Regions from separate parts of the Homo sapiens genome. Here all the other regions are linked to region 3. Evidence: fine-mapped expression QTL. A gene starts in region 3. Each other region holds a variant in brackets. All regions are shown on one strand. Distances are between the middles of the regions.

Region 1 (8,179 bases), 870 kb after region 3:
CTCCCAAAAGTGTTGGGATGATAGGCATGAGCCACCATGCCCTGCCAGACTTTCTTAAAAGGACACTGGGGAATCCAACAGAGCAGAGAGGCGCTGAGTACCCAGGAGGGAAGAAGGCAGGAACCAGGGAATAAGGTTCGAGTACTCTGGGGGCAGCTGTTGGCTCTCTAGGATGGGTCGCCATCCCTAGAGCTGCAGACCACTCACTGCCTTGGTGGCCCTGATGCGCTCCCCACAGCCTGAGGTGGGCAGGCCTGCAGGGGGCTTTGCTGACCCCAGAGCCCAAGACAGAGCCATGCCCAAGCCAAGTCCAGCCCCTCCATGCAAACCAGGCTTGGAGCCAGCTTGGCTACTCTATTGAGGTCTTGCCAAACTCAAGTTCATTTTGATGCTTCTTAATTAAAAAAAAAAGATCTCCACTGGACTGCCTGCTCCTGGTCACTCCTTCAGTTCCCAAGTATCCTTGAGACGGATGATCCTCCAGTGGCGGGGCTCCTTCTCCAGGCCTGCCCGTGGTGGGGCGAAGGACACTGTCTAAGGTGATGATGAACTGCAGGAGGGGGTCTAAGACGCTCTTGACAGAAATAGTAGAGATTCTTCTTTTTACTTTTGGGGTAAAGAGTTTAAAATTCTAGAATATGTCCATGTCACAATTCAGTAAATCCTATTTAATTGGAACCAAACTAATTCAGCACTCACGTCATACACGGCCAGGCTGAAGTTTACTTTTTTACTGTCAGTCAAAGGCAGTGGGAATAGGCTTGCAGGGGGAACATCTCCCCCACCTTGTACAGTAAATGGATTTTGACTTCTATTAACATTGGAGTCCTTCTGTGCATCTATCTGCATTCAGATACGAATGAGCTCATTATAAATAGTTCTCTCTATTCAGTCAAGTTGGCTGGGCTAACCTTGTTTGGTTATATGTTGTTAGTCATTAACTGGGGTAGCGATTAAAATAAGGAAATTACTATATGACCTAAATAAACAGCACTTCTATTTAAATGCTCCCTAATTTGGAGAGCTCTCTGGCTTAGTTCAAATTGTCCAGGCTCAGCACTTGCTACTGGCTTCCCAGAGCAGAGTGGCTGTAGCTTGCTCAACTTTACTCAACCTTCTGGAGTCTGAGTAGGGCAGCAGGGCCTCTGAAGTCAGGATCTCCTTTCCAGAATCAGAGCCCAGAGTGCATTTTCAAAACTCCTGTCCTGGCCGGACACGATGGCTCACACCTGTAATCTCAGAATTGGGAGGCTGAGGCGGGCAGATCACGAGATCAGGAGATTGAGACCATCCTGGCTAACACTGTGAAACCCCATCTCTACTAAAAATACAGAAAATTAGCCGGGCATGGTGGCACGTACCTGTAGTCCCAGCTGCTCTGGAGGCTGAGGCAGGAGAATCGCTTGAACTGGGGAGGCGGAGGTTGCAGTGAGCTGAGGTCATGCCAGTGCACTACAGCCTGGGCAACAGAGCAAGACTTCATCTCAAAACAACAACAACAACAACAACAAAACTCTTCTGTCCTTTCCAAGTGTCTTTCCATCATGTGGTAGGAAAGTTGGGCTTAAGTATCTTCTGAGTTCCTGACGTACTTAAAAGCATTTTTTAAAATCCAAACTTGAATTCTATTCTAAATGTAATGCTTGGTTTTAAGGATTGGGTTTGGAGATTTTGAGAAGAAAGAAAGGATTACTTTGAAATGAATAAAACTGTTTCCCCAGGAACACTGCAGAAGCATTTATCAGATGCCACTGGAGGCATGCCGTTAGGTGAGGAAGTGCACTCTGAGACTTCCCTGCCCCAGGGAGGTTTATGATCAGATGGGCTTAGAAATGTGGCATCAAGGACACACCAGTGGTAGTGTCATAGCCAGGCTAGGGGGACTGCATTCTGGAGGAGGCTCAGATCTGCACCCCCAGAGCTAGAAAGCAAAAGGGTCACCAAGCTCGGTACTAGTTATTGCCTGCCCGAGACAGACATTCTAAAAAAAAAAAAAAAAAAAAAAAAATCTCCCAAATGTAGTTGGTAGGTTTCCAGGTTTTCTCAGTCCCTTTTGGCATAGGCAAGTTGTGCCGTAAACCATGTGGGCGGCCACAGCAGAGATGGAAAAACAGCAGCAGGTATGGCCTTTCTTCCCTAGGCAGTCCTGAATAAGCGTTATTTTCACAACGCACAGGAGCCCACACAGTGCCTGGCAGTATGAATCTCTCCACTGGGACTGAAAACAAAAGCCTCACAGATGATGCATCCAAGGAGACAAGATCAGGGGGAGCCCACCCATCAGGCAGGATGCCCCTCAGAGGGACATCCGAGAGCAGCAGACCTGGAATGCCAGCCCCATGTCCAGCACCCGACCTGGGCCCCTGAAGGTAAGCCTCTGCCATCCACTCTCCTGCGGGAAGACGCATGTATTAGTCCGTTCTCACCCTGCTATGAAGAAATACCCAAGATGGGGTAATTTATAAAGGAAAAAGGTTTAATTAATTCCCAGTTCCGCATAGCGGGGTAGGCTTCAGGAAACTTACAATCATGGTGGAAGGCACCTCTTCACAGGGCGGCAGGATGGAGTGAGTGCAAGCAGGGGAAATATCAGAGGCTTATAAAACTGTCAGATCTCGTGAGACTCGCTCACTATCACGAGAACAGCATGGGGGGAAACTGCCCCCATGAGCCAATTACCTCCACCTGGTCCTGCCATTGACACGTGTGGATTATGGAGATTACAATTCAAAATGAGATTTTGAGTGGGGAAGCAGCCCAACCATATCAGTGCAACAGGAAATTTACAAGTTAGCTTTGGAGGGATGTGCTCAAATCCTTATTTTACAGGTCCACAGAGGTGAAGGAGAAACTGGAAAAACCGAGATGCACAAAATTTTTTCCAAATTGGAAGCAGGTAATACTAAAATGTACTGTCAACTCCTTCTGTCCCTGGCTCAGCAAGTGACAGCCAGCCAGCCAGGCTCCCAGGGGACACCCCCTTTCCAGCTTTGCTAAGCCGTCCTCCAGTGCAGAGAAGGTGTCAAGGTCAGCAGATGGCATGGCCTGCAGAAGGTTTATGGAGACATCTCCGGCTTTCCCAGATTCCTGGCTGCAGAAGTGTGTTCTGAATGGACACCCTTGGACATCTGGAAAAATGATACTCTCTCACCAAAAATAGAAGGTGGTTGGGGCAGAAACTGAGACCAGCAACTGCCATTTTGTGGCTGGGTTCTCCCAGCACCCAGGAAACTTCATCCCTCAGGCAGAGCCTGGGATGCCCTGGAGTTGAAAGCACTGCCCAGTGGCGTCCTGTCTGTAGCTATGGAAACAGAGAGACAGTCGCCTCCCTGTTGGCTTTCGTGCCAGAGACATCTTGCTGTCAGTTGTGTTTAAAGTTAGCTTGAAAACAACAAGACGATGCAAGTCTCCTCTTTTGACATCATGCAAGGGGCCCTATGGCACGGAGGCAGCCATGAATATCGCAGTGTGGAACCTGTCACACTCCGTCCCCCGTCCCTGTCCTCAGAGAGAGCTTCCTGTATGCATTCTTGTTGCAGTGATGTCTTGGGCTCTGATGAGTGCACCCTTCACGCCTGTTCCTGCATTGGTGCCTTGTCCCAAGATTCAGGGGGACACAGCATGGGCCAGCTCAGCCCCAGTTACAGATGTGCTAAGATGGTGCCCAAGCCCAAGCCCTAGCTGGAGGCAGGCTCGGAGGCAAAGCCCAGCTCCCTTTACTGGTGTCTGGGCCATCTGCCTTCAGGCACAGACTGTCCAGCCAAGGTCTTGCTGAGGAACTGCAAGGGACAGGTTGTGGGGGGCAGGCGGTGGGCAGTGCAAAGGGGTAATGCAGCTCACCCTCAAGGAGGAAGGCTGGAAGACAGATAGACAGACAGATAGACAGACAGGGACAGACAGACTTTAACTAGAGTGCAAGGCAGACTGGGATGGAGCCATGAACAAGGTGGCTGAGTTGTCTGCGCTGGGAATCAGGCATCAAAGGTCGCATTTGCCCTGACCTAGTCTCACCTGGCATGGCCTCACTTATAATAAGACTCTCAGTCATAAAAACCAAGGAGACAATGATTCAACACGTATTTTGTTAAACACAGAGGATACCCTGACACCTACAGATAAAGCAATCTCACTTCCGTGCTCAGAAAAGAAAAAAAAAAAATAGAACCTGCAATTAGAAGGTAAGATTGCTGAATTCTGGAAAACAAACCTAGCATTTAGGAAAGACAATGTCTGGGGCAGGCCACTAATCAATCAGGGCCTCTGGAGGGAATTAAATAGGGTGTAGACAAGGAAAGATAAGCATTTAATTTATGTAGACTAAACAGATTTCTCACCAAAGGTCATCAAAAATATTAAGCTGCCAGGTACAGTGGCTTGTACCTGTAATCCCAGAATTTTGGGAGGCCAAGATGGGACAATCACTTGAGGCCAGGAGTTTGAGATCAGCTTGGGCAACATAGTGAGACCCTGTCTCTACAAAAAGTACAAAAATTAGTCAGGTGTGGTGTAGTAGTTCCAGCTACTCAGGAGGGTGAGGTGGGAGGATTGCTAGAGCCCAAGATTTTGAGGCTGCAGTGAGCTATGATTGCATCACTGCTCTCCATCCTGGATGACAGAGTGAGACCCTATCTCTCTCTCTCTCTTTCTCTCTCTCTCTCTCT[A/C]TATATATATATGCACATATATAATATATATTTTATATGTACACATATACACACACATATATGCATACACACACTCACACACATTTATATATATATATAAAGCTAACATTATTCCATTTTTGAAAATCATAACCAGATGGCATGTATTAGTCTGTTCTCACATTGCTATAAAGAACTACCTGAGAATGGGTAATTCATAAAGAAAAGAGGTTTAACAGCTCACAGGTCTGCAGGGTGTACAGGCTTCTGCTTCTGGGGAGGCCTCAGGAAACTGACAATTACGGTGGAAGAAGAAGCAGGCACATCTTACTTGGTGGGAGCAGGAGGAAGAGAGAGAAGAGGGAGGTGTTACACACTTTTAAACAACCGGATCTCATGAAAACTCTATCACAAAACAGCACTAGGGGGATGGTACTAAACCATTAGAAACCACCCCCATGATCCAGTCACCTCCTACCAGGCCCATCCTCCGACAGTGGGGATTACAATTCGACATGAGATTTGGGTGGGAACACAGAGCCAAACCATATCATTACACTACATGAGAGATGCTTGAATCAGGCCAGGCTATTGGAACACAACTTGGTGTCTACCTTGGCTTGTTCCCCCAAAAGGAGGCAAGAGACAAGCACATGGGTTCAGGCAGCTTGTTTGGGAGTGATCTCAGGAAGTACAAGGCAGGCTGGCAAGCTTTGATGGTACCAGGGAAAGTCCCTGGTAAAGAAGAAGAGAGATGTAGGTGCTTGAGATTACAACTGCCTCCTGAGGTTGAGCTCGGGTGGGCTGAGCAGATATGGGAAGCCATCAACAAGACCTGCTACAGTGTCATAATCAGCACAAGACACTCTATGCAAACTACTGTTTACATACTTTTTCTCCTCCAGTTTGGTTGTTACAACGCATTCCTTAAGGATGTTAAATTGTCAATATTGAAGTTCTTCCTGGGATGTCTTTGAGAAGATGGCAACAGTGTTAGGGGCATCATTTTGAATATGCCACTAATAAAAAACAGACAAACTAGATAGCAAAACCAAAAACCTATGGGAAACACTCACAATAAAACTAGTGGGCAATGCATCCCCTAAAACACCAAAATATTGGTGGGTAGGGACTGCCTATTTTGTAACTAACAGTTATTAAACTGGCATAGTATTAGTATGCATACAGAAGGAATCAAAGGGAAGAAACAGGGTGTTTGTCATCTCTAAGAACAGGAAACTGCAGTTTGGATGTGACTTGTTTGTCCCCACCAAAATTCATGTTGAAATTGGATCCTCTATGTGGTGGCATTGGGAGGTGGGGCCCAGTGAAAGGTGTTTGAGTCATGAGTAGATTAATGCCCTCTCTAGGGACTGAGTTCTTGCTCATGAGGGAATGGATTAGTTACAATGAGAGCAGGATGACAAAAAGAGTCTGGCTTCCTTGGTTTCTCTCCCTCTTGCTTACCCCCTTGCCACGTGATCTTTTTGTGCACATCCCCACTTCCCTTCCATTTTAGGCAAGAGTTGAGGCAGCATGAGGCCCTCACAGATGCAGCTGCTCCATCTTGAACTTTCCAGCCCCAAGAATCATGAGCCACATAAACCTCTTTTCTTTATAAATTACTCAATATTCTGTTATAGCAACATAAAATGGACTAAGACAAGGAGTAACCCCAAAGAGGCAATAGGTATTCATTCACTGGAAAGTACAGAGATCCAGCTTCACAACAGGAGCTGAAACGGGAAGGGTTTTGCTCACTCCATTAGTGTGTAAGTACAAAGGGCCTCATGTAAAAAGATGAGAAGAGGATGGAGTAGCATAGCCCCTGTGAACTCTTGAAACTGACCAGCCAGGTCATCCTTCCAGGACAAGGCTGCACATCAAGAAGACACTGCTGAAACAGGAAACAAAATTGAATAGAGCAGGAATGATAGAGGGGAAGGAAGCAGAGTATCCAGATAAAAGTAGAGACATTTTTATAAGAACCAGGAATCTAAAAAAATAAAATAAAATAAGCTGCCATATTTTTTAACAGTGCATGAAAACAACAAAAGAGAAAGCTTTGTGAAGTTATAAAAGCTGTCTTGAACTCAACCCCATTTTTAAGTTCAGAAAAATTAATTTCACCTTTACAAAAATGAGCAGCAGGCAAAGATCAAAGTCCTACTCTATACAGTTTTTTTTTAAAAAGAGTAAGAAATAGAATAACATCTTCACAGATAATGAAAAACATGCCAAAAGATATGCCTGCAAAACAAAAAACTATAACCTACTGTTTTAAGACAAGCTAGAAGCAATTATTTAAACAAAATAAGATGCAAAAAAACCCAACATAAATCAGAAATAGAAAAACTCAGAAATTAACAAATTTAGGGGGGGAAATGAGTTTAAAAGAAAAAAGTTTCAGAAATTAAGACTAACCTAGAAAGATTGCAAGAGTGAATAAACACAAGAGATAATTCCTCAGAAGAAACAGAAAATGAAACAAATGGAAATTTTTAAAAATCTAAGAAATGAGCAAGGATATAAAGGCTTCAGGAGAAAGTGACAAATCTCGAAGTTGGGTAAAGAGGATCCAACATACAGAGAACAGGGTTCCCTGAAGAAAAACCCAAAGCAGGGATCAGAACAAATACTAGAAGCTATAGTTCAAAAAGGTACTATGTTATTTAGAAATAAAAAGTTTTCAAACTACATATTGAAAAGTCACACCATGTTCCTGAGAGTACTGACCCAGAATGACTAACACCAAGGCATGAATTTAGTGAAATGATAGAACTTCAAAGGAAAAGAAAAATCTTTTGAGTGTCTAAGCAAAAATAGCCCATGATTTGTAAGGGATTGGAAATTGGATTATCATCAACTTTTTGACTGCAACATTTGTGCCAGAAGAAAATTGAGTAACATATTTAAATAACTCAAGAAAATAAAATGTGAGCCAAGGATCTTATATTCAGGGAAACTGACTTTCAAGTATAAAGGGTACAAACAAACTTATCAGTATGTAACAGTTCAGGAAATATTGTTCCCATGATTCCTTCCTGAGGAATTCACTAGAGAATGAACTTCAGAGAAACAAAGTGTCTAGAGAGACATCAACATAAGGTGGTGAACATTAAATATATAATTTACAGAATTAAGAATAAGTGAAAATTTTAAAAAAGCATAGTATATAATGGCTATATTCTCTGACAATATAGATATAGTACAGTTATTTATAAATTGAGGGATAAGAGAATAAGAAATGCATGCAGAAAAAAAGCATAATAAAAAAATTTTAACTGTTTTCAATAATGATGTTGATGGAAGTAGTATTGGCATTTTATACTAAGAATGCTGTGTGTGTAATATGGGATAAAGGAAATAAGTAATTCTTGTGTATTTCAATTCTGTCATCTCCTGGGCCTTTGAGAACTAGGATTTTTTTTGGTGAGAAAAAGGAGTTCAGGAATAAGAAAGAATTTAAGTAAACATCCAATAATTCCTTTACAAATTTTTTTTCAGGTAGAGATGGAGTCTCACTATGTTGCCCAGGT
Region 2 (8,179 bases), 37 kb after region 3:
TTGAGTAAGGATTTCTGGCCAGGCGTGGTGGCTCACACCTGTAATCCAGCACTTTGGGAGACCAAGGTAGGTGGATCACGAAGTCAAGAGATCGAGACCATCCTGGCCAACATGGTGAAACCCCATCTCTACTAAAAATACAAAAATCAGCTGGGCGTCGTGGCGCGTGCCTGTAATCCCAGCTACTCGGGAGGCTGAGGCAGGAGAATCGCTTGAACCTGGGAGGCGGAGAGTGCAGTCAGCTGAGATCGCACCACTGCACTCCAGCCTGGCAACAGAGTGAGACTCAGTCTCAAAAAAAAAAAAAAAAAAAAAAAGATTTATATTTTATCTAAGAAATAAGGAAAGAGTCTCCTTATGACAGCAACATGTGAAATGGGTACAAAGGCAAGGAGATGAATCCACTATGACTTGGGTAACAAATGTGGCTGGAAACATTTTGTAGAGGATCTTGAAGGCTTGAACCAACAGTTTTCTAAGCCTAAGCTCCATCTCTTCTATTCAACTATTACTAAATATCAGGAGCCCCTCAGATTTCTGTACTGAACCATCTTTTCATTCTGTCCTCTGTGGTGTATCATGTCCATTTCCAGTAGTTAACCACATCTATAAACCTAGGAATCCCAACCATATCCCTAGTTGAAACCTCTCTACTTATCTACAAAACCACTTCTCTAATGTTCCAAAAGAATCTCAAATGAGTTCAAAATTGATTATTATCACCTTCTCCTACCCTCCCCCAACCCCTCTACACACATCTGCCTCCCAGCTCACTTATATCGGAGAACAGCACCTCTGTTCTTTGACCTGCCCAGGCTGAAGTGCAGTGGTGTGACCATAGCTCACTGAAGTCTCAACCTCTTGGGCTCAAGTGATATTCCTGTCCCAGCCTCCTGAGTAGCTGGGGACCGCAGGCTCAGGCCACCATGGCTGGCTATTTTTTTTTCGTTTTTAGAGATGGGGTCTTGCTATATTGCCCAGGCTGGTCTTGTGCTCCTGGCCTCAAGTGATCCTCCCGCCTCAGCCTTCCAAAGTGCTAGGATTACAAGTGTAAGCCACAGTGCCCAGCCAGGTACCATTTTTTATTCCACTGATCTTCACCATATACATGCAAAGTCCTGTTTAGTCTACTCCTCCATGTTCCAGTGGGAGTACAGATGGCTGTACTCCAGATTATTCTGGCACTGCACAACTCCAGGGGCACTGTCCCAGATTGGTTATAATATGAATATCAGATCCTAGGGTAGTATGTGCATCCCCTCTATCCCCTTATAGTGATCCTGTAAGACCACCTTTCAATGGATTCCCACTGTCTTGCTATAACATCCTTAAGAAGGCCTAGAAAGTCTGCCTGATCTGACCTCAACTTCTCTCTCCAGTCATCTTTTTCCACTCTCCCCCTTAATGGGATTTATGTCAGTTTTCCAACTGAGAGTTTCCTTGTACATACTGTACCCTATTCAGAGTTTCCTTGTACATACTGTACCCTATTCTGACTCTTATTCTTTCAAGCCTTGGGCTTAAATGTCACCTGCTCTAGAAAGCCTCTTCTGAAGCCTCTCCCTAACAACATCTGAAATGGGTATGCAGGCCAGGAGATGAGTCCTTTAGATGAAACTTATTATTCAAGGGCTGCAAAGCATCTGAACTTAATGTCATTAAGACTCTGAAGCTGAAATTTATTGTTCAAAGTTTGACTTCTCATCTAGACTGTGAACTCCCTCTAAAGAGCAAGGACTCTGTCTTCTGTCTTGTTCACAACTAAATCCCCTGTACTTAAAGAGGTGTCTGGCACACAGCAGATGTTTAAAATTATCTGCTAAATAACAGATTGGAGATGCACTTCAGATTTTTCTGGCTTTCAAGTCTTGCTCAGATTGGAATGGAAATAAGGATACTGGTTTGGAAGATACTGCTGTTGACCATATCGAAGTTTACGGCATCTTAAGTATAATCAAAATAAAAACCATTATGATGCTTAATACTGAGTGTCAACTTGATTGGATTGAAAGATGCAAAGTACTGGTCTTGGGTGTGTGTGTGAGGGTGTTGCCAAAAGACATTAATATTTGAGTCAGTGGACTGGGAAAAGCAAACCCTCTCTTAATCTGGGTGGGCACCATCTAATCAGCTGCCATTGAGGCCAGAATATACAGCAGCCAGAAAAACATGAAAAGACTAGACTGGCCTAGCCTCCCAGCCTACATCTTTCTCCCATGTTGGATGCTTCCTGCCCTCAAACATCAGACTCCAAATTCTCCAGTTTTGAGACTCAGACTGGCTCTCCTTGCTCCTCAGCTTGCAGATGGGCCTATTGTTGGGCCTTGTGATCGTGTGAATTAATACTCTATCAACTCCCCTTTGTATATATCTATCCTATTAGCTCTGTCCCTCTAGAGAACCCTAATACAACCATGTTTTAGAAAAGGGCTGTAGTGAGGAAATAAATGCAATAGGGATAAGAAAGTCAACCTGTGGGCTGGGCACGACGGCTCATGCCTGTAATCCCAGCACTTTGGGAGGCCGAGGCAGGCAGATCACCTGAGGTAGGAGTTCGAGACCAGCCTGGCCAATATGGTGAAACCCCCTATCTACTAAAAATACAAAAATTAGCCAGGCATAGTGGCGGACCTGTAATCCCAGCTACTCAGGAGGCTGAGGCAGGAGAATAGCCTGAACCAGGAGGCAGAGGTTGCAGCAAGCTGAGATCATGCCACTGCACTCTAGCCTGGGCGACAGAGCAGGATTCTCTCTCAAAAAAAAAAAAAAAGAAAGAAAAAAAAAAGTCAACATGTGACATCTGTTACCACTGAGGAAATAAGACGAAATACAAGCTGGGGAGAGCAGTATGTCATTTGATTAAGACAGCAGAACCTGTGCGTGTTGGAAAGCAGACAAAAGAAACCAAGAAAAAAAAGATCCGAGACACAGGACAGAGACGAAAATCCTGTCTGAAGAATGGTACAAAAGGAAAGCAAAACACCACATGCAAAAGTTAGCCTTTACCGAAAGTGGATTCTCTCCAGCAGAAAGAAAAAGAGTTTTCGGTTATGTGGAACAGTCTCTCAACAGGTAAATTATGTCCAATGGTTTCAAACCTGTTATTATATCCTTAAGGTCATCTGCTTAGTGAGAGTTGCAAGAATACTGAGGCAGTTTGATAAGAGCTGAGA[A/C]AGTTTTAAGCTCTGTGATAAACTTGCTAGGGGCTAGGCTCAGTGGTTCATGCCTGTAATCCCAGCACTTAGGGAGGCAGAGGCTGGAGGATCGCTTGAACCCAGGAGTTTGAGACTTGAAACCAGGAGTTTGAGATCTGCCTGGGCAACATGGTGAGACCCCATTCTCCACAAAAAGGAAAAAAAGAGTCAAAAAAACCCCACACACGTACAACTTGCTAGGGAGTCAAGACAGAACAAAAAAACTTTTAAAACACGGACCTACGGGTCTAGATGAACAATAATTAGGTAGACCCAATAAAAACAATTTCACAGATTTCTCTAGAAATATTTAACAGGCAAATAGTATATACTACTGATGAAGAGGGATTTCACCAAGAAAAAGGGGCTTATGGGGTTCAAGGGCAATTTAGGACACATGTCAGTCAAACTGCTAATAGCAGATATGAGCAAGAAATAAAAGTGAACATGAAGCCAGGAGCAGTGGCTCACGCCTATAATCCCATCACTTTGGGAAGCCAAGGTGGGCAGATCACTTGCAGTCAGGAGTTCATGACCTACCTGGCCAACATGGTGAGACCCCGCTTCTACTAAAAATACAAAATTAGCCAGGCCTGATGGTACACACCTGTAATCCCAGCTACTCGGAAGGCTGAGGCAGGAGAATCACTTGAACCCAGGAGGCGGGGCTGCAGTGAGCCGAGATCGTGCCACTGCACTCCAGCCTGGGCGACAAGAGTGAGACTCCATCTCAAAAAAAAAAAAAAAAAAAAAGTGAAGATGAGAAGCAGCAGGAAAACGAAGAAGTTCTGTAAAAAGTGAGAGAAGGAAAGACAACCAAGAAGGTATACAAGCCACCTCTCATTTTACCTCCTATTTAGATGTTATACTGATAGATTTAGTGTAGATGGTAACATTTTAAAACTTGCATATCCTGACTGCATCAATCATTTTATTAGGACATCACAAGGCATATACATAGAAGCTTAATTCAATTTTATGGACTATTTTAAAACAAGCAGAACTAGAACAATACATCTATGCACAACAATACATCTATCCATGATTATAAAAAAAGTAAATCTAACCTTGGTAAAAAGTTTAACTGGATCATATCCAGTTGATTTAGCCCATTCCTTAGTAGAAATACGTTTAATGTCACCATCTTCATTAGATGCTCTAGCTCTGGCTTCGGCTTCCGTTGGTTCCCCTATAAAACGATCATTATTTTATTTTCAACCGTAATAAATGTAGAACTGAACTCTTTTCACTCACCTTTGGGAATAAAAAGAAAGTCACTCATGGAAATCCCCAAATGCAACACATTCTGAGTTCAAGGAATAAGAAAATAACACATTCATCAGCATCTTTTTGTATCCCAGTTTCTTTCTTTCTTGTTTTTGGAGACAAAGTCTCACTCTGTTGCCCAGGCTGGAGTGCAGTGTTAAGATCTCGGCTCACTGTAGCTTCTACCTCTTGGGCTCAAGCCATCTTCCCGTCTCAACCTCACAAGTAGTTGGGACTACAGGTATGCACCACCATGCCTGGCTAATTTTTATATTTTTTGTAGAGACAGGGTTTTGCCATGTTGGCCAGGCTGGTCTCAAACTCCTGACCTCATGCAATCCAGCTGCTTCAGCCTCCCAAAATGCTGGGACTACGGGCGTGAGCCACCTTGCCTGGCCTGTTGTAACTTAGTTTCTGAAAGCTACACATATAACAGTTCAAAGCACAGACCAGTCATGAGATCTAGGAACAACTCGCAGCTCTATTTACTAGACTTGTGAAATTTCTCTTAACCTTGATTTCCTCATCAGTAAAACGGAATCATATTTTTTTTGTAAAACATTGTTTTGGATAGGCACGGTTGCTTACGCCTGTCCCAGCACTTTGGGAGGCCAAGGCGGGTGGATCACCTCAGGTCAAGAGTTCGAGACCAGCCTGGCTAACATGGTGAAACCCTGTCTCTACTAAATATACAAAAATTAGCTGGGCGCGGTGGCAGGTGCCTGTAATCCCAGCTACTCAGGAGCCTGAGGCAGGAGAATCATTTGAACCCAGAAGGCGGAGGTTGCAGTGAGCCGAGATTATACCATTGTACTCCAGCCTGGGCAATAAGAGAGAAACTCCACCTCTGAGACAAAAAAAAAAAAAAAAAAAAAAAACAAAAAAAAAACACATGTTAAACACACATTACCTAGCACATATAGCAATTTTTTTCCCTTAAGCTACCAAAATTAAATCAACAAAATAAAGATAATAGTATCTGATAAAACATATGCCAAATAATTTACTCACAGGCAGCTTCAGGGTCAGCTCTGTCAGGAGATACTTCTTGATCAGCATCTTCTTCCCCAAACAACTGGCTATAATTTAAGAATAGTAAATACTTCTGTATAACAAAGCATTCTAAACAAACATGTAATTTAGAATATTCCAAATATTTAGCAGAGATAAAGACTGAACAACTGGCTGGGCGCAGTGGCTCACACCTTTAATCCCAACATTTTGGGAGGCTGAGGCAGGCAGATCACAAAGTCAGGAGTTCGAGACCAGCCTGACCAACATGGTGAAACCTCGTCTCTACCAAAAATATAAAAATTAGCCAGGCGTGGTAGCGCACGCCTGTAATCCCAGCTACTCGGGAAGCTGAGGCAGGAGAATCGCTTGAACCCAGGAGATGGAGGTTGCAGTGAGCCGAGACTGCACAACTGCACTCCGGCCTGGGCAACAGAGCAAGACTCCGTCTCAAAAAAAAAAAAAAAAAAGTGAATAACGGATAAATGACTATAAACTTAAAAGTTTAACACAATGTGCTTGGACAGCTTGCATCCCAATTTCAACAGCAATGTAAGCAAGGTTAAATTTTAGCAGACCTACATCCATTCCTATCAGCGAGGCTCTGCACATTTCAATGTTAAAACCTCTGCTCAAGAAACAGGTGAGTGGTTTTCACTTACAACCTGGATAACATTCTAACACCAGAATAATGTTTGTGTTTACACCTGCAGCTACCTGTTCAACAAACATTATTATATACCTCAGGTGCAGAGTCCCCATCTAGGGGATAGAAATTCAGCAATGAACAAGATTAACTTTTTTTCATGGTAGAATGGCTCTTTACTGCTGAACAGAGTGTTAACAAACAATTTGAAAGTATTAAGCTGAGATTCTCTTTTATTAATAAAGTTATCCTAAAAACTGTTTAATAACTCATGGATATAAAAGTTTCCAGTATTTCCTCAAGTATATGATTAATGAAAGTTATCTTACAGAAATCCTTTGTACAACCCCCCACCCAACTATAATTTCAAAGCTCTGATAGTCACTCCCAACAATGGCATGTTAACACTTCCTAAAATTAACGCTTTGCCAACTAGTGAGTGCAAAATAGTAGACAGCCGCTAATTTAAAATGGTCCACCAATGATTTTTCACCTTTACAACAGGTTTATTGAGGTTATATTAAAATGCATTTTTGGCTGGGCGTGGTGGCTCACATGTGTAATCCCAACACTTTGGGAGGCCGAGGCGGGTGGATCAACCGAAGTCAGGAGTTTGAGACCAGCCTGGCCAACAAGGTGAAACCCTGTATCTACTAAAATACAAATATTAGCTGGGCGTGGTGGCAGACGCCTGTAATCCCAGCCACTCGAGAGGCTGAGCAGGAGAATCGCTTGAACCCAGGAGGCAGAGATTGCAGTTGCACTGCACTCCAGCCTGGGCAACAAGAGCGAAACTCCATCTCAAAAAAACAACAACAAAAAAAGCATCATTTTTTACTTAATGGTATTTTTTATTTATGATGAGTTTATCGGGAAGTATCTGAGAAGCATCTGTAGCTTACTATGGTCTTATACTTAATTTTCCAAGTAAGTCTTATGATTAAAACATAACTTGCTTATTGCTTATTTAGGTTTCCCTTCGAGTGAAAAATGCTGCTCATATTAATTTTGCCAGATTATCTTTTTTGTGTGTGTGACAGGGTCTTACTGTCCCCAAGGCTAGTGTGCAGTGGTGTGATCACAGCTCACTGCAGCCTCGACCTCCTAGGCTCAAGTGATCCTCTCACCTCAGCCTCCCAAGTAGCTGGGACCACAGGCATGTGCCACCATGCCTTGCTAATTTTTAAATTTTTTGTAGTGATGGGGTTTCACTATGTTGCCCACACTGCTCTCAAACTGCTGGGCTCAAGCAATCCTCCTGCCTTGGCCTCCTAAAGAGCCGGGATTACAGGTGTGTGTCACTGCACCTGGCCACATTATCTTTTTTTTTTTTTTGTCTTTTTCTGAGACACAGTCTCGCTCTGTCCCCCAGGTTGGAGTGCAGTAGCATGATCTCCATTCACTTCAACCTCCGCCTCCCAGGTTCAAGCGGCTCTCATGGCTCAGCCTCCCGAGTAGGTGGGACTACAGGCGTGTGCCACCACACCCCACTAATTTTTGTATTTTTAGTAGAGACAGGGTTTCGCCATGTTGCCCAGGCAGTTCTCAAACTCCTGGCCTCAAGTGATTCACCCACCTCAGCCTCCCAAAGAAAAAAAATGTTTGCCAAATAAATAAAGCTTCCAAGTGTAGTTTTTGTGAACATTTATCAAGTTGACACTGTTATGTATACTTTTCTGAGTGCAAAAATTAAAGACAATGTTTGCTGAAGGTTTCTACAAAATACCCTTTATCGGGTTGAGAACATTCTCATTTTAGTAAGAAGTTTTTTTATTTTTAATTTTATCTATTTATTTATTTTTTATTTTTTTGAGACGGAGTATCGCTCTGTCGCCCAGGCTGGAGTGCAGTGGTGCAATCTCAGCTCACTGCAACCTCCGCCTCCCGGGTTCACGCCATTCTCCTGCCTCAGCCTCCTGAGCAGCTGGGACTACAGGCACCCACCACCACATCCGGCTAATTTTTTTTATTTGTAGTAGAGATGGGGTTTCACCGTGTTAGCCAGGATGGTCTCGATCTCCTGACCTCGTGATCCGCTCGCCTCAGCCTCCCAAAGTGCTGG
Region 3 (8,179 bases):
GTGGGTGGCTGAAGAGAAGGCAAGGAGGTCACCAAAGTTGAAAAGGTTCCGGAAGCCCAAGGCTGTTGGCTGGCTAATGGCAGCGGAACTTGGGGAGGGGAGAGGGGAAAGTTCCAAAGACATCAGTGAATGGCAGAGAGCAACCAAGAGGTCAGCTGGTACCAGGGCCAAGGACAGGAAGAGATGAGGGGTTGGACAGAGAGAAAAAAAGCTCTGGCCAGGCGTAGTGGCTCCCGCCTGTAATCCCAACACTGGGAAGCCAAAGAGGGAGGATCGCCTGAATCCAGAAGTTCAAGACCAGCCTGGACAACAAAGCAAGATCTCAGGTCTACAAAACATAAAAAAATGTAGCCGAGCATGGTGATGCACACCTGTGGTCTCAGCTACTCAGGAGGCTGAAGCAGGAGGATTGCTTAAGCCCAGGAGTTCAAGGCTGCAATGAGCGCTGATCTCACCACTGCACTCCAGCCTAGGTGAGAGGGTGAGACCCTGTCTCTAAAAAAAAAAAAAAATTAATTTAAAACAAAAAAGCCACACTCTGAGGACGAGGTTTATCAGAGATCACTCGAGCTTATGCTACCTGCAGATTTTCTTTTGTAAAATGCTGTATTATTCTGGTTGAACTCTATGAAACTGCCACTTTTGTAGCTCAACAAAGTCAAATATCATCAGAACCATATAGTTCAAACAAATAGTTGCCCATATTTTTTAAAATCAGGAAAGTGGGCCGGGCATGGTGGCTCACACCTGTAATCCCAGCACTTTGAGAGGCCGAGGCAGGTGGATCACCTGAGGTCAGAAACTCGAGACAAGCCTGGCCAACATGGTGAAACCTCATCTCTACTAAAAATACAAAAATTAGCCGGGCATGGCGGTACGCACCTGTAATCCCAGCTACTGGGGAGGCTGAGCCAGGAGAATCACTTGAACCCGGAGGTGGAGGCTGCAGTGAGCTGAGATCGCACCATTGCACTCCAGCCTGGGCGACAGAGCAAGACTCCGTCTCAAAAAAGTTTAAAAAAATAAAGTAAACAAAATCAGGAAAGTATTACTGAATCTCAATTTCTAGTTTTTCTTGAAAACAAAATAAAAAAGGTCTATCATCACTCCTCTAACACTCTCAGGGCGCTACAACAGCCCGATCTGAGCAGCTTTTTTTTTTTTTTTTTTTTAAAGAAAAGACAGGATCTCACTCTGTCATCCAGGCCAGAGTGCAGTGGCACGATCATAGCTCGTTGCAGCCTGGAACTCCTGGGTTCAAGTGCTCCTCCCACCTCAGCCTCCCAAAGTGCTGGGATTACAGGTGTGAGCCACCGCACCCGGCCTAGCAGCTCCTCAGAAAAAAAATGTGCCACCACACCCTACCTTCTTGTATCATCTCCACATTACCTGCCTGGGACCTCAGCCACCCCTATATCATATAAAGATTCAGGGGTGTCTACAGAACACCCCCCTCCCCCGGGCTCTGCAGTACACAGGGGCCGGGAAATGGGCACTCTCCCCTGCAGAGGGCACTGGAAAGCATGCCCTTCAAAACTCAGCCCCAGCCTCTCTTCCTGGCACCTGCCTGACACGGGAGATGACAGCTCCTGGCACATCTCCCTGCTCCCAGGCCATCCAACAGGCGCCACGAGACCTGCCCAGCCACAGAGTCTCACCATGACCTCACAGATGGGAGGCGCTCTCCATCCCAAAGCAGGCGCACCTCCTCTTAGCCCACATATGCCCTCGACCACCTGAGCCCTCTGGGCTGCAACCCCAGGGGGAAGAGCGGGGCAATCTCTCATCCCGCCTGGCCTCCTCTGCTCATTCTTCCCTCTCTCTGGAATGCCCCCACCTGGCCCCTCACTGACAGACTCCTCACCCCTCAAGATCCAGTTCAGGGCCGGGCACGGTGGCTCACGCCTGTAATCCCAACATTTTGGGAGGCTGAGGCAGGCGGATCATGAGGTCAGGAGATCAAGACCATCCTGGCCAACATGGTGAAACCCCGCCTCTACTAAAAATACAAAAATTAGCTGGGCGTGGTGGCGCATGCCTGTAATCCCAGCTACTGGGGAGGCTGAGGCAGGAGAATCGCTTGAACCAGGGAGTCGGAGGTTGCAGTGAGCCAAGATCACGCCACTGCACTCCAGCCTGGCGACAGAGCGAGATTCCGTCTCAAAAAAAAAAAAAAAAAAAAAAAAAAAAGATCCAGTTCAGGGCAGCCGTGAGCTGCTGACACCATTGAACGCTCAAAGACACAAACCCCAGGACAGCCACGGTCCCAGGCATGGTGACCATCCATCCACCAAAGCCAGGTGCTTAATACAGAAGGCGGGTTGGGAAGTTCTCGCCCCAGGCCCCACAGTATACCTCTGCCCCGCTCACAATCTCACCCCAAGAGCTGTCCCAAGAACTAGAGATCAGGGGGCCTGGGCCACACTGGGAAGTGGAGGCTGTGAGGCTGCTGGGCTTTGCAGATGCACCTGCAGCAGGATTCCTTTAGGAAACATCCTATGTCCACAGCACAGTCCGGGCGAGGGCAGCCCCGTGTGACTGGCACGGTTCCCCTCTCCCGCAAAGTGGGCTTTTCTTCCCTCACACAGTCTCCCTCTCCAGCCGCTACCATCACCAAAGCCTGGGTCAGGCGGTATCCGGTGGTACCTGGGCCACTCCATCTCCCGGTTGCTGTCCACACCCATACCGTGGCGGGGCAGACGGGGAAGCACCCCTTTCTGCTCATCACGAAGCATGAAAGGATCAGATAGAATGAGAGCACCAAACGCAAAGAAGAAAAGATCAGGCCGGGCGCACTGGCTCAAGCCTGTAATCCTAGCACCTTGGGAGGCCGAGGAGGGCGGATCGCTTGAGCCCAGGAGTTTAAGACCAGCCTGGGCAACATAGGGAGACTCTGTCTCTACAAAAAAAAAAAAAAAAAAAAAGTAAGAAGAAGAAAAGCTGGGCATGGTGGTGTGCACCTGTAGTCCCAGCTTCTCGGGAGGCTGAGGCGAGAGGATCGCTTCAGCTTGAGAGGCGACGGCTACAGTAAGCCGAGGACGCGCCGCTGCACTCCAGTCTCGGCGACAGAGGAAGACCCTGTCTCAAAAAAAAAAAAAAAAGAAGAAAGAAAAAAAAAAAAGAAGAAAGAAGAAAAAATTATCAGAAAATGGCTCAGTGTGCCCATGAACCTGACTTGCCTGTTAAGTTAGGAACCGCACATCAACTCACTCGGCCAGAACCCCTCGTGTGTCGGGGGACCCAGAGGCAGGGGTGAAGCCGCTGCTGGGGATCCAGGCGCACTCACTCACCCTTTGCGCTCCCCAGTCCCCAGGGGATGCACCTTCCTCGTCCCAACCCCGTGCACTGCTGCACCCCCAGCCAGCCCCGTGCTCTCCTCCGCTGATCCGGCCGCCTACCCGAGGCAGTCTCGGAACCCCGGACCCCAGCCATGCGCGCAGGGAACTGCCGGGCCGAGCGAGCTCACCGAAGTAGTCCCGCGCCGTGCGCGCCTCGAGCGCCCGCTCCAGCTCCCGGGTGAGCGCCTCCAGCCGCCGCTCGGCCGCGCTTGGGCCGCCCTCCCGGCCAGGGGGCAGCGGGAGTGCAGGCAGCGGGAAGGGAGCCGGCCCCGCAGGCTCCGGGGAGCGAGCGGGCGCGGGGCAGGCGCCGGGCGGGAGGAAGTCAGCGTAGGCGCCGGCCGAGCCCCGGGAGCCGAGGCTGGAAACGCTGGAGCGGGCGCTGCCCACCGAAGGCGGCCCGGGACCGGGACGCGGGTCCGAGCGACCGGAGCGCGGGCTGCCGTGGCGCTGGTCGTAGCCCAGGCTGATGCCGCTGGATCGGGCGCTGCCGCCACCGCCGCCGCCGTCGGACCCCGCCAGGCTGGCCCGTGGGCTGCCCGCAGGCTGCGCGCTGAGCTCCGGAACCGCCGCGCGCCGGGGACCCCGCTCCCCGCGGCTCAGTCCGTCCGCCCCGGCCTCGGGGCCGCCGCTGCCCTTCCCTCTGCGGCCCAGCGCGGGCGCCGCCTCGTCTCCAGGCCCAGGCCGCGGCCCCCGCCGCCCCCGACCGGGAGAGCCGCACCCGGGCTCCAGCTCCCGCAGGGCCAGCCCGGCCAGGAGTAGGGCCGCCTCGTCCGCGCCCGCCCTGGAGCGCTGCATGGCCCGGCCCGCCGGCCCTGGCGCGTCACCTCCGCCTCCGCTTCCCGCCGCCGCTCCGGCCGGGCCGCCGCATCGTCCGCCCGAAGCCCGGAGCCCGCCCCGGGACCCCTGGGCGCGGGGCGGGGCGGGGCCGGCGCCGGGCCGGGGTCGTTCCGGCGGCCACGCGCGGGCCGGGGGACGCGGCGCCCTGCTCGGCGGCGCGCGCGGCGGAGGAATGTAAGCTCCCAGGCGCCGGGCCGCGCCCCCTCCTCGCCGCGGCCTCGCGCGGGGCGGAGGGACTCCTTTGCGGGGGCAGGAATGCGAGGAAGGAGACGGCGCTGCGGCCTCTGGAATGTGGGGGGAGTGGCGGCGGCCGCGCTGCGCCGGGACCTCGGAGGGGCGTGGAGGCCGGGCCAGGACGCAGGGGCGGGCGGCGGAGGCACCGCGGGGAGAGCCCAGGGTCTGCGGGGCGCCCGGGCCGTCGGGCCGCTGGGAAGAGCTCGGATTTCCGCAGGCTGAGCTGGAGGCAGCTGGCGCCATCCGGGCCGGAGAGATCCAAGCAGTCGACAGCTTTCCCCACATCCCGCCCCATCTCCCTTCCCTGCGCCGCCTTGCTCTCCGGCGCTGCAGGGCCGACCCAGCTCAGCTTGGAACCCACGGCGCTTCGCCCGTCCCGCGCCCAGGAATACTGTGCGCCTAGCGCAGATGCGTCCCCACGACCCCCTGCCTGGCCCGGGGCCATGTGGCCGCGCACCGGCCTCTGAAGCCCCCATCTGACTGCTGGGGAAGGCGCCCAGAACTAGGAGCGGGTTGGTTGGGGACTGGTCCTCGCGCTGGGTCGCTTCGCCCAGGCCCCCAAGGCCAGGCTAGAAGCAGGCCTCAGGCTCAGAGCCGGTGGGCGGCGAGCCTCCCCTGTGGCCATCACAGGCAGTCCCCGTGAAATATGGGGACTCCTCCCTTTTCCAGCACCTGCATCCAGGGTGGTGGGTGAGGCTTCGAGGGGAGGTCCTGGAACCAGCGGGGCCATAGGGGCCACATAGGTGGGGAATCGAGAGGTGACTAGGGCTTCGTGCCCAAGGACACAACTAAAATCCCTTGTACAAGTCACACGGCTATAGGGAAGAAAACCAAACCGTTATCTGTCAGGGCCTGATGGATCCAAGAAAAGTGTTGCGTGAGAGAGTACTGTTTTCCAGGCCCTCTCTGCTCAGAGATTTTCGGGAAGGCGCCTACAGTGGCTCAGCGCGCAGGGAGCCCGCACGGGAACTGTCCCGGCCAGACCGCCCAGGGCAGTGTGGCCTCAACACCACTGAGCACCCGCTGGGGCCGCTAACCCCAGCACCTTCCCATAGCCTGCGGAGTTCCAGCCCCTGCCCCACCAGGGTAGGGGAAGTGGAAGCAAGCATTTCGTGTGCGCGGAGGGTGGGGGAGTTGCGCTGTTTTGTTTTTTTCAGACAAGGTGTCGCTCTGTCCCCCAGGCTGGAGTACAGTGGTGTGATCACAGCTCACAGTGATCACACACACCCCAGAGTCTCAACCTCCTGGGCTCAAGCAATCCTCCCACCTCGGACTCCTGAGTACGTAGGAGTACAGGCGCACACCACCACACAAAACGCTGAGATTACAGGCATGAGACTCCGTGCGGGGTCTAGAAGCCAGCATTTGGGAGAGCAAATACCCAGGGAAGCCAGGACATGAAAAATGGTCTACCTTTCAAATGAGAAAGGAAAAGCCAGTTCAGTCATATCACATTTCATGGACTGCATTATCTACTATTTAAAAATTACAATATTGGCAGGACTGTGGTGAAACAGTTGCACATATGCTACTGGTATGAGTGCAAATTGGGATATCCTTTTGGGAAGAGCAGTTTGGCGGTGTCAACATCCGCACAAACGAACACGAAACTTAGAAGCAGTAATACTGCTGCTAAACATCTATTCAAGGGAAGTTATCAAAAATGCAGACAATAATCCAATCACAACCGTGTCGTATAATCCCAACATCATTTAGGTAATCTACAGCGGTCCCCAACCTTTTTGGCACCAGGGACTGGTTTTGTGGAAGACAATTTTTCCACAGACAGGGATGGGGAGGGTGGGAATGGCTTCAGGATGATTCAAGGGCATTATATTTATTGTGCACTTTATTTCTATTATTATTACATTGTAATATATAATGAAATAATTATACAACTCACTATACCATAGAAAGAGTGGGAGCCCTGTGCTTGTTTTCCTGCAACTAGACGGTCCCATCTGGGGGTGATGGGAGACAGTGACAGATCATCAGGCATTAGATTCTCATAAGGAGCACACAGCCTAGGTCCTTCGCATGCGCAGTTCACAATAGGCTTCGTGCTTCTGTGAGAATCGTGGTGGGACTCAGGTGGTAATGCTCCCTCGCCTCTGCTCACCTCCTGCTGTGTGGCCCAGTTCCTAACAGGCGGTGGTATACTGGTCTGTGGCCCAGGGGTTGGGGACCCCTGATCTATTCTGTCCTAGGATCTCCAGCCTTCTGAAAAGATGCTCAAAGGGAGCTCTCTGCATTTAAAGGCAGCTGTTGGGCTGAGTGTGATGTAATCCCAGTGCTTTGAGAGGCCAGTATGGGAGGATTGCTTAAGGCCAAGAGTTCAAGACCAGTCTGGGAAACATAGTGAGATTCCATCCCTACAAAACATTAAAAATTAGCTGCCAATGGTGGCACATGCCTGTAGTCCCAGGTATTTTGGGAATCTAAGGCGGGAGGATGCTTGAGCCCAGGAGGTCAAGGCTACAGTGAGCAGTGAGGGCACCACTGCACTTCAGCCTAGACAACAGAACGAGATTCATCTCTACAATAAAAAACAAAAAATTAAACTGGCGCGGTGACGGGCACTTGTAGTTCAGCTGTTCGGGAGACAGAGGCGGGAGGATTACTTGAGCCCAGGAGTCTGAGGTTACAGTGAGCTATAACTGTGCCACCACACTCTAGCCTGGGTGACAGAGCAAGACCCTGTCTCTACAAAAACAATAAAGTCAAGTATTTAATAACTGTTCTGGCTGGGCACGGTGGCTCACTCCTGTAATCCCAGAACACTGGGAGGCTGAGACGGGCGGATCACTTGAGCTCAGGAGTTTGAGACCAGCCTGGCCAACATAGCGAAACCCTGTCTCTATTAAAATACAAATACAAAAATTAGCTGGGTGTAGTCGTGCACGCCTGTAATCCCAGCTACTTGGGAGGCTGAGGCACAAGAATCGCTTGAACCCAGGAGGCAGAGGTTGCAGTGAGCCAAGATGACACCACTGCATTCCAGCCTGGGTGACACAGCAATACCCTGCCTCCAGAATAATAATAATAATAATAATAATAATAATAATAATAATAATAATAATAACAACTGTTCTTTCCCCACCTGCCCACTTAGAGCTTTCAAGATTTAAACTATATTCACATCCAGGGTCAGCTAAAACCTATTACTTGCTCTACTAGTAATAAATGACAACTACAAAACCCAGAAACAACCTAAAATGTTTGATATTTACCATTAGAATAGTTTAAGTACATCCTTGAAGTGGGAAATACATTAAGCAGTTATATTCAAAAGATTTAATGAATGGCTTGGGAATCAGACTATTGTGATGTTAGGTGGATTTGAAGTAGTCTGCAGAATTGTGGGGTCTCATCTCTACATTACCCAAATGTCCCCCTGACCCCATCTTCTATCTCCTCACTCCAGGGGTATTGAGTGATCTCAACAGACTGGCTCCTTCTGTCTGAGATGCACAGTCCAGGAGAAGGATGGGGATGGGGCTCTCTCAAGGGATTTAAAGCACTGTCCATGGACTCAATGTCCAGCCCCCACTGATTCCCCCTCTGTCCTCCCCTGTTGCAGGAATGTTCTTTGTGTTCACCTCTCTCTGGGCATTTTCCTCCTGAGTCCAGTGGTGTGCTGGTAAATGTCTAACAACCAGCTCTCTGGGGAGGAATTTGTATAAATCAGGAGCCCTGATGTGTAGCATTTGCCAATTACCATGGTATAAATACTCCCAGCATGGCCAATTTCAAGCTATAAAGATGGGGCC

Which allele goes with the higher level. Positions count from the first base shown, and alleles are read on the strand shown. Sizes are in standard deviations (SD) of each study's normalised expression. Not every link is listed here.
As copies of A replace C in region 1, the expression in monocytes after LPS of the gene that starts at base 4,350 in region 3 goes down (moderate effect, 0.55 SD a copy in Fairfax 2014).

The links.
Region 1: its variant is fine-mapped to the expression of WTIP in monocytes after LPS (Fairfax 2014, PIP 0.95).
Region 2: its variant is fine-mapped to the expression of WTIP in lung (TOPMed, PIP 0.95).

Annotation. Positions count from the first base shown.
Region 1 is chr19:33,608,583-33,616,761 of GRCh38, reverse strand. No RefSeq gene overlaps it. Among named protein-coding and RNA genes, the nearest start is that of CHST8, 9.3 kb to the left of the region's middle. The variant A/C (reference allele first, on the strand shown) is at 4,662.
Region 2 is chr19:34,441,204-34,449,382 of GRCh38, reverse strand. It overlaps UBA2 (ubiquitin like modifier activating enzyme 2), which reads right to left. Exons shown (of 17, transcript NM_005499.3): 7 at 5,472-5,539; 8 at 4,262-4,383. Among named protein-coding and RNA genes, the nearest start is that of UBA2, 17 kb to the right of the region's middle. The variant A/C (reference allele first, on the strand shown) is at 3,174.
Region 3 is chr19:34,477,929-34,486,107 of GRCh38, reverse strand. It overlaps WTIP (WT1 interacting protein), which reads right to left and starts at 4,350. Exons shown (of 8, transcript NM_001080436.2): 1 at 3,467-4,350. The coding sequence starts at 4,133. RefSeq lists enhancers at 3,312-3,966, 3,967-4,622, 4,623-5,277.